2 separate regions of the Homo sapiens genome follow, and region 1 is linked to region 2. Evidence: fine-mapped expression QTL. A gene starts in region 2. The other region holds a variant in brackets. All regions are shown on one strand. Distances are from middle to middle.

Region 1 (4,379 bases), 30 kb after region 2:
CAGAGCATGGTGGCTCATGCCTGTAATTCCAGCACTTTGGCAGGCCCAAGGTGGGTGGATCACTTAAGCCCAAGAGTTTGAGACAGCCTGGACAACATAGTGAGACCCTGTCTCTACAAAAAATTAGTGGGGTGTGGTGGCATGTGCCTGTAGTCCCAGCTACTCGGGAAGCTGTGGTGAGAGGATCAACTGAGCCTGGGAGGCAGAGGTTGTAGTGCGCTGTGATCACGCCACTGCACTCCAGCCTGGGTGATAGAGCAAGACCCTGTCTGAAAATAAAATAAAATAGAAAACCAGAATGTTTGGCCTCCGTTACGGGAGCATTTACAGCACTGCCTTAAAATGGGGGAGCACCCTGCACCGCTCAGACACCTTTGCAAAGCTGACTGCCTCGGGTCCTCACCATGATCCCTCAAAGAAAGCTGGAGAAACGCCGTCATCACTGTACCCTCAAACTTGAGGTCGAGTGAGGTGAATGGACTTATTCAGGATCACAGGTAGTTGGCACTATTGTCAGACAAGAGTAACAGTGGCTTTTCCTCAGACTCAGTTCTCAAAATGCTGCCCCACCACCCCCCCCTTTTTTTTTTTTTTGAGACAGAGTCTCCCTCTGTCACCCAGGCTGGAGTGCAGTGGTGCGATCTTGGCTCACTGCAACCTCCGCCTCCCGGGTTCAAGTGATTCTCAGCCTCAGCCTCCTGAGGAGCCGGGATTACAGGCGTGCACCACCACACCTGGCTAATTTTTGTATTTTGAGTAGAGACGGGGTTTTGCCATGATGGCCAGGCTAGTCTCGAATTCCTGGCCTCAAGTGATCTGCCTGCTTTGGCCTCCTAAAGTGCTGGAATTACAGGCATGAGCCATTGCGCCCAGCTCAACAACCCTTATCTCCCAGGTTCTCACACCGACTTCTTGAGTTACGTAACGAAGTCTTGATGATTCCCATCTTGTCGCTAGACGGATGAGGGTCAGGGTGGTTTCAAAAGCCTATGCAGGGTCACCTGGTGAAGAAACAGCAGGTTGAACCTGGGCGCAGCGTTCTGATTCTGAGGAGAAAGGGAACATGAAAGAGATCATTTCCCTACTTGTCTTATCAGACACCGGCTACCACCGTGGAGCTTGGGTGTGTTCAGAGGCCATTGTTCTACCTACATCTGGGGCCAGGAAGAGCAAAGGCTGACAGGTGAGCAAGGCCTTGTGTGGCATGACACCAGGGGACAGGCTGGCTCAGGGCTTCCAGACAATGGGCCATTTTTTGGCTCCAGTGTGCACCCAGGGACTTGCCAGCACTCACCTCTAGTTGTTGAAAGGGCAGGCTGGGTGAGGCAGGTCGGGGAACTCTCTCTGCAGTTCTTCCTTTCAGTTTTTAGTCGTCTTCTCCTGACTGTTCTGTTGCCAAAACCCCCCAGCCCTCCAGCATCCCCTTCCCCACCCCATCCTCCTCACCTGCTAGAACTCTTATGTAGCTGTCAAGTCCCAGCCCAAATGCCCCTTTCTCCAGTCTTCCCCAGCTCCCCTACACAGACTGAAGCCCCCTCCTCTATTTCTTTTTTTCTTGAGACCAAGTCTCGCTCTGTCACCCAGGCTGGAGTGCGGAGGTACGATCTTGGCTCACTGCAAACTCCCCCTCCCGAGTTCAAGTGATTCTCCTGCCTCAGCCTCCCGAGTAGCTGGGATTACAGGCACCCACCACTATGCTTGGCTAATTTTTTTTTTTTTTTT[G/TTG]TATTTTTAGTAGATAGAGATGGGGTTTCACCATGTTGGCCAGGGTGGTCTCGAACTCCTGACCTCAAGTGATCCACCTGCCTCAGCCTCCAAAAGTGCTGGGATTACAGGCGTGAGCCACTGCACCTGGCCAATTTCTTTCTTTCTTTTTCTTTTTCTTTTTTTTTTTTTTTTTTTTTGAGATGGAGTATTGCTCCGTCACCCAGGCTGGAGTGCAGTGGCACAATCTCGGCCCACTGCAAGCTCCGCCTCCCGGGTTCATGCCATTCTCCTGCCTCAGCCTCCTGAGAAGCTGGGACTACAGGCACCCACCACCATGCCTAATTTATTTGTAGTTTTAGTAGAGACGGGGTTTTACAGTGTTAGCCAGGAAGATCTTATCTCCTGACCTCGTGATCCGCCCGCCTCGGGCTCCCAAAGTGCTGAGATTACAGGTGTGAGCCACTGCGCTCGGCCAGCGCCCGGCCAGTTTCTGTACTGCATTACAGATAGCCAATCTGAGACCTCTTCTAGAGGGCTATGGTGGCTGCTTTGCATGTCTGCTTCCCTCCACGAGGAGGGCAAGGCCCACGTTGGTTCAACCTTGCATAAATGTTGGCTGAATGAATGAATTCAATAAATTCTAAATAAGCACCAAATGTGTGATGGGTGCTTGCTGTGGAGGATACAAGGATGAGCAAGATGTGTTCTCTGCCTCCAAAGAGCTTACATTCGATGGGAGAGGCAAGGTACGTGAACAAGGAAAGTGGAAGGAAACACAGAAGCCATGTCCCAGCAAGTGAGCACTCAATATGGCCAGCATTCTAATCTGGTGCTGCCCGTAACTTGCTGGAAGCCTCTAAGCAGGCTTCTTAGCCACTCTGGCCTTGGAACCCAGCAAGAGTAATTCCTATAGATTGACGATGGGGCTGCCATTGGATTCAGATCACAGGAAGGGGCAAGTGACAGGTGCCTCTTCTTCCAAAGTCACAGGAGGGAGGGAGTCCCCCCGTCTAAGCCTCTTACCTGACCACAGTCTAGTTCATGGTGTCTGAAGCTGACACGATTGACATTGGAGGCTGGATAATTCTTTGCTGTAAGGTCTATCCTGAGCATTGTAGGTTTTTTAGAAGTACTCACTAGAGGCTGGGCACAGTGGCTCACACCTGTAATCCCAGCAGTTTGAGAGGCTGAGGTGGGAGGATCACTTGAGGCCAGGAGTTCAAGAACAGCCTGGCTAACATGGCAAAATTCTGTCTCCACAAAAAAAAAAAAACCAAAAATTAGCCAGGCATGGTGGCTCCAGGTACTCAGGAGGCTGAGGCACAAGAATCGCTTGAACCCGGGAGGTGCAGGTTGCAGTCAGCCAAGGTTGTGCCACTGTGCTCCAGCCTGGGTGACAGAGTGAGACCCTGTCTCAAAAAAAAAAAAAAAAAAAAAAAGCATAGAGCAGAGAGACAGCCAGGCATGGTGGCTCAGGCCTGTAATCCCAGTGCTTTGGGACGCTGAGGCAGGAGGATCTCTTTTTTTTTTTTTTTGAGACGGAGTCTTGCTCTGTTGCCCAGGCTGGAGTGCAGTGGTGTGATCTTGACTCACTGCAAGCTCTGCCTCCTGGGTTCACGCCATTCTCCTGCCTCTGCCTCCAGAGTAGCTGGGACTACAGGTGCCCACGAGCATGCCTGGCTAATTTTTTTTGTATTTTTAGTAGAGACGGCTTTTCATCGTGTTAGCCAGGATGGTCTCGATCGGCAGGAGGATCTCTTGAGGCCAGAATTTTGAGACTACTTGGGCAACATAGCAAGAATCCCGTCTCTATAATATTTTTTTTTTAGACGGAGTTTCGCTCTTTTCGCCCAGGCTGGAGTGCAATGGCATGATCTCGGCTCACTGCAACCTCCGCCTCCCTGGTTCAAGTGATTCTCCTGTCGCAGCCTCCCAAATAGCTGGGATTACAGGTGCCTGCCACCATGCCAGGCTAATTTTTGTATTTTTAGTAGAGACGGGGTTTCACCATGTTGGCCAGGATGGTCTCGATCTCTTGACCTCATGATCCACTCACCTCGGCCTCCCAAAGTGCTGGGATTACAGGCGTGAGCCACTGCGCCAGGCCTTTTTTTTTTTTTTTTTTTTTTTTTTTTAATTAGCTGGGCGTGGTGGTGCACGCCTGTAGTCCCAGCTACTCAGGGGGGCTGAGCTGAGAGGATTGCTTGAGACTGAGTTCAGGGTGGCAGTGAGCTGTGATAGTGCCACTGCACTCCAGCCTGAACAACAGAGGGAGACCCTGTATCTCTGAGAGAAAAAAAAAAAAGAGCACAGAGAAGAGGCAAGAAATTGCGTTCCAGTGGCAACTGTGGGACTGAAACAGACTGGAATTCCCCCCTCAGCACTCATCCATCCTGTTGGTTGAGAAAGGAAAAAGTCTATATATAATCTTATGGTCCCCAATGTTTCTCCCAGATGAGTTCAGATGAAAATTCTGGGGCTCAGGGAGAAAAGACTTTTCCAGAGATTGCATAGCAATTCCCCATCTCCCCTCATCCCCATGGGAAAAGAGATTTTCTTGTTGGAAGGACTATGTGCTGATTCACTGAGGAAACAGGAATCTTGCTGCAGCCAGAGAAGCAGATGGAGGTCAAATCTGAAGGCTGGTAGGACTCAGTACTCGGCACCAGCTTTTG
Region 2 (4,379 bases):
ATCACCATTCTGAGATGGCAGAATTAAAGCTTGGATTGACTCTTCTACGCTGGGTGGCTTTTCCAACTCATTAATTATTTCAAATATAGATATTATAGATTCCTTTGGTTTACAAAAGGCTACCTTAACCCTCCAGAGAAGATCTATGGACACAAGTAGCTTGCTGCAGGAAAGCATTTTACAAGCCTACTAGAAAGCCAGTCTTTTTCTCTGCTCAAACTAGATTTCGTTCTGGTAACATCTCTCCATTCTTGCCTTTTTCCCCCATTTCAAGTTGCCTCAGGTTTCTGATTGTTCCAGAACACACCTTCTAGCCATTTTTCCTTAACCTCCATTTCCCCTTCCTTTAAACCTCGTCCCTCCTTTCTTTTCACCACATTTATTTCCCAAAGGGCTCCGAACACTGCAGTCTTTACGTCTCACTTAGAGGGTGAGCAACCACTTCATGAAAATGTGTGGAGAGGCCTCAGCCTGCATAATCCCAGCACCACTCAGTTACTGGGGAGGAGGGGCTTAAGTGTGACCTGCTGTGGACAGAGGCAGCTTTATCCCACAGAAAATTAAGGTTCAGGGTCCCTTCCAAGGAAATGCATTCGTCAGTCCCATTTTTGTAAAATATGCAAAACTATATTTTAGATTTTCTTTTAAAGGACCCCCTGAATTACATAAAGTTCAGCCTCCAGACCTAGACCGTCCCCCGGTCTGGAAGAAAACCTGCCTCACCACAACAGCATGCTAATAGTGCTCAAGTCAAGATCACCAACAAATCAACATACGGGCAACGGTGTTGCTGGTTTCCAAACACACCCAGTTATGTGTGTAACAAGGACACCAGAGGAAAGGCAACTCTTCAAGCACCTTTCTTACCTGAACAATCCTAAATATTGGCCCCAACTACATATTTCATCTGATATTAACATCAAAAGCCTTCAAATGAGCTTTCCAAATGACTTAAGATTTTAGGGAGCCTTTGTATTGGCAGTTTTTTTTCGGAACTCCCTCCAAAAGGCCAGCAAAGGATACATTTACTATAATCATGGGCAGTAATTCTCAGACTTAAGCCAGCTAAAAATCGCCTGTGAGAGCTGGTTACAATGCAGATGTCTGAGTCTCACCGCCCGAATTTCTGAATGTATAGGTCTAAGGCGGAGTTCAAGGGGATCCTCCCAGGTCTCAGGAGGTTGTACACTGAACATAGGTTGGTGGTCGCAGTTGTTCTACCACTGTGTGACCTTGACGCAGGGAGAGGAAATATTCATTTACAGAAAACGTAAAATAACGTGGAGAGAGAGTGAGATGGTAACCGGAACTCAGAAATGCAGGTGGTGTGTGACCCACGGTATTTTGCTAGGGTGTGGCTGGGCACGACTCATCCACCGGAGAAGCTGCAGAATCGATTTATGAGGGTCTCAGGAATGCAAAGACACACAGATTCGTCTCACCTAGAAGTCACGTTTCATTTTAATCTCCAAGCAGACAGCGCAGCAGCAAACCTGGGGCTGTGGAGTGGGGCCCCACACCCTCCGCCCACTCTCCCGCCCCCGTCCACGCCTAGACTGCAGGAAAGGGGTCTTCGCACACAAAGCCAGACCCCCAGGCGTGGGAAGATGGAACCAGAACAATTCGAACGAGCAGAGCAAAACAGATCGGAATTGCAGACTTCAGGTCGTGGCAGAGAAAACCAGCTGAGACAGGGCGCCACTTACTAGGTGATTCTTTATTCCAAGTTGGGGAACGGAGGAAGACGAGAGGGGGAGCCCCCGGGTCCGGTGAAACGCTCTAGGAGAAATGCGGCTCCTTCGCGTCCCCTAGGGCACCCTCTGCCCCCGGCCGGGTTCCGAACTAAGATGTGGCGACCCCGACCGGCCCGCCCCCCTTCCGGGGCTGCCTTCGCGATCCCGAACTGCACCCTCCCGGATCCCCCACCCTGGGCCCAGCCTCAGGAAGTGGCGGGGCGCCCAGCGGGAGCGGGAAGCGCGGGCTAAGGGCGGGCGGGCGGCCACGCCCAGCCGGGTCGCCGGGTCGCCCATGGCCGGGAGGGGAACGCGCCCGCGGCCATCCCCGTCCCTCCCCAACGCCAGGCCCCCCCCGGCCAGCCGCCCGGGCTCCCGGCGCGCTCACCGCCTTCATAGCGGAGGCCATGTCGTCGTAGCGCTCCGCCTGCTCGGCCAGCCGCGCCCGCTGCAGCAGCTGCTCCCGGTCCCCCATGTCGCTCGCGGCTCGGCCTCGCCTCGCGCCTCACACCGCTGGCTCGCTAGCCCTCCCGCCGGTCAGTCCGCTCCCCGGTCGCTGCGGAGGCCGCCGCCGCGCACGCGCACTGGCTCGCCGGCCGGCCGGAGGCTGCAGGCTGCAGGCTGCAGGCAGCGCCGCCGCTCGCGCCCTCTCGCTGGCTCGCCCCGCGCGCTGTGGCTCGCGCCGCGGACAACGCCGAGGGAGGAGACGCGGCCGCGCTGGGGGATGGGAGGACGGGACGACGCCTGCGCAGTGAGAGTGGCCAGGCCGGGCGGCGGGGAGCGGCGGGAGTGGGAGGGGGGAAGGGCGGGCCGGCCCTAACGGTCTATTTCAAGGTGACGTCACCTACTATAAATAGCCACCGCCGCCGCCGCCGCCCGGCCTGAAAGCCGCGCAGGCGCTCTGCGAGTGCTGCATTTTACCGCCGCAGAGATGGAGGTGGAGAAGGGAAAGCCGGGCAGGAGACTGCGGAGCCGGTGGAGGGGGCGCGGTGATGGCGGCTGCACAGGCAGTGCATTGTCATAGCCCCACCCTGAAACGCGCCACTCCATCCACGTTAGAGATCTGGCTTGAGAAGGGCCCCAAAAGCAAGCAAACATACTGGCGGAGAAGCCGGGAGACCGCGTGCCCCGAGGGGCGGGTCCGCCCAGCCCCGCCCCAGCCGTCCCGCCCGCCCCGAGCCCTGCCTGTCCATGCGTTCTGCTGGGCCACACCTTGTACTGGTCCGGGCAGGATCGAGTCCGACCCTCGGGGACAGCCCCGCTACACAGACACACACAATCGAACCCAACCTGAGACGTAGCCTTGGGCAGGCTGTGCCTTCCACCAGAGGAGGGGACTGGGTGGCCAGGGCGGGACAAGTAATATTCAGGACACATTAGGAGCCAGCCCAGTGCTAGTCCCGTACAAGCATCCTCCTCTTTAATCCTCACTACCCAGCCCACAGTGGGCACAGCTGGTCTCCCCATATTTAAAACGTGGAACCTGAGGAAAAGCGAGGTTAGTGACTTGCTCAGGGTTACGCAGCCTGTAAGTGGTGGGGCCAGGATCTGAGTCCAAACCCAGGCTGAACTTTCTCTTGTGGCAAAGAGCTGGGGTGGCCCAACTGGCTGGTCACTGAGCCCCTCCCAATCCTGGCTGGTATTGGATGCTGAGGGTCCCTTGTGCCAGGCCCTGGACTGGGCTGCCCGACAAGCTAGGAAAATGATGATTAAAACAAGGCCCCCACTTGATTTCAACACGCCAAGGGCAGTGCAGGAGAGGGGGCCTTGGGCTCGCTGAGAATTTTATTGAGCATCTACTGCATGCTCAGCCCACAGGGATAAGCTGGATCTTGAAGGAGAGTCAGGAAAAAGATTAAGGCCTGGGGTACAGCATTGGCAAAGGCTTGGCAGTGACCTGGGAGATGGTGAGAAGAGAGGCCTAAGAATGGGAAGTGAGGTTGGGTAAAACAAGATTACGGAGTCTTTTAAATGCCAGGCCAAAGATTTGAGGCTTCATCCTTAGGTAATTGGGAAGCCATATTTCAGGCCTGGAATCTTGCTCTAGAGAGTAAGACATGTTCGAAGGGAGAAGGGAGGGAACTGGAGACCAGGCCTTTTCTGGACCTGTTTTCCATCTGGAGAATTGGACTTAACTGTTTCAAGGACTTTAGAATAGATATCCACATGCTGAAATGTCAGAGCTGGCAGGACCCTTAGAATCACCCCTGTCTAACCCCTTATCCTGAATAACGGGAAACTGAGGTCTGAGGGAAAGGAGGGGCTGGCCCTAGTTTGCACAGCGAGTGAGCAGAGCTGGGGTCTCCATACCAGGTTTCCTGCCTCCCAGGCCTTCCTCTTCCTGCTATGATGCTGAAACGATCACACTTCTGGGGGCCCATGAAACAGGATTTGAATGTGGGTCTAGGAGGAGGCCACTACCCCAGGCTTCACCATGCTTTGAAGAGTCACTTTTGCTGTTGGAATCGAGGTTAACAAACCAGGCTAATCTTTCCCCTAGTGAATATATTTAAAGAGCATGCTAGATAGTAATGAATCATCCACTCCACCCCCCATAAGGATGGGGTCCCAGTGAGAGATGGGAGGAGGGCCAGCCCTGGATGGGGGGACCTCCTCGGTTCCTTCTAGCTCTTAGAGGGCTTAGAG

Direction of the effects. Alleles are on the strand shown, and positions count from the first base shown. SD is a standard deviation of normalised expression in the study named.
For the expression in monocytes of the gene that starts at base 2,407 in region 2, allele TTG in region 1 goes with a lower level than allele G (moderate effect, 0.51 SD a copy in BLUEPRINT).

The links. PIP is the estimated chance that this variant, and not a neighbour inherited with it, causes the effect. A credible set is the group of variants that fine-mapping cannot tell apart.
Region 1: its variant is the best candidate, but not a certain one, in a credible set for the expression of YWHAH in monocytes (BLUEPRINT, PIP 0.69).

The regions. Positions count from the first base shown.
Region 1 is chr22:31,912,451-31,916,829 of GRCh38, reverse strand. No RefSeq gene overlaps it. Among named protein-coding and RNA genes, the nearest start is that of YWHAH, 30 kb to the left of the region's middle. RefSeq lists an enhancer at 4,162-4,379. The variant G/TTG (reference allele first, on the strand shown) is at 1,723.
Region 2 is chr22:31,942,563-31,946,941 of GRCh38, reverse strand. It overlaps YWHAH (tyrosine 3-monooxygenase/tryptophan 5-monooxygenase activation protein eta), which reads right to left and starts at 2,407. Exons shown (of 2, transcript NM_003405.4): 1 at 2,122-2,407. The coding sequence starts at 2,208. YWHAH-AS1 (YWHAH antisense RNA 1) reads left to right here and starts at 1,576. Exons shown (of 3, transcript NR_171018.1): 1 at 1,576-1,709. It overlaps LOC124900477 (a long non-coding RNA gene), which reads right to left and starts at 2,108. Exons shown (of 3, transcript XR_007068065.1): 1 at 1,707-2,108; 2 at 1,264-1,442. RefSeq lists enhancers at 1,437-1,486, 2,230-3,087, 3,088-3,945 and silencers at 1,807-2,146, 2,217-2,436, 2,447-2,536, 2,817-2,966.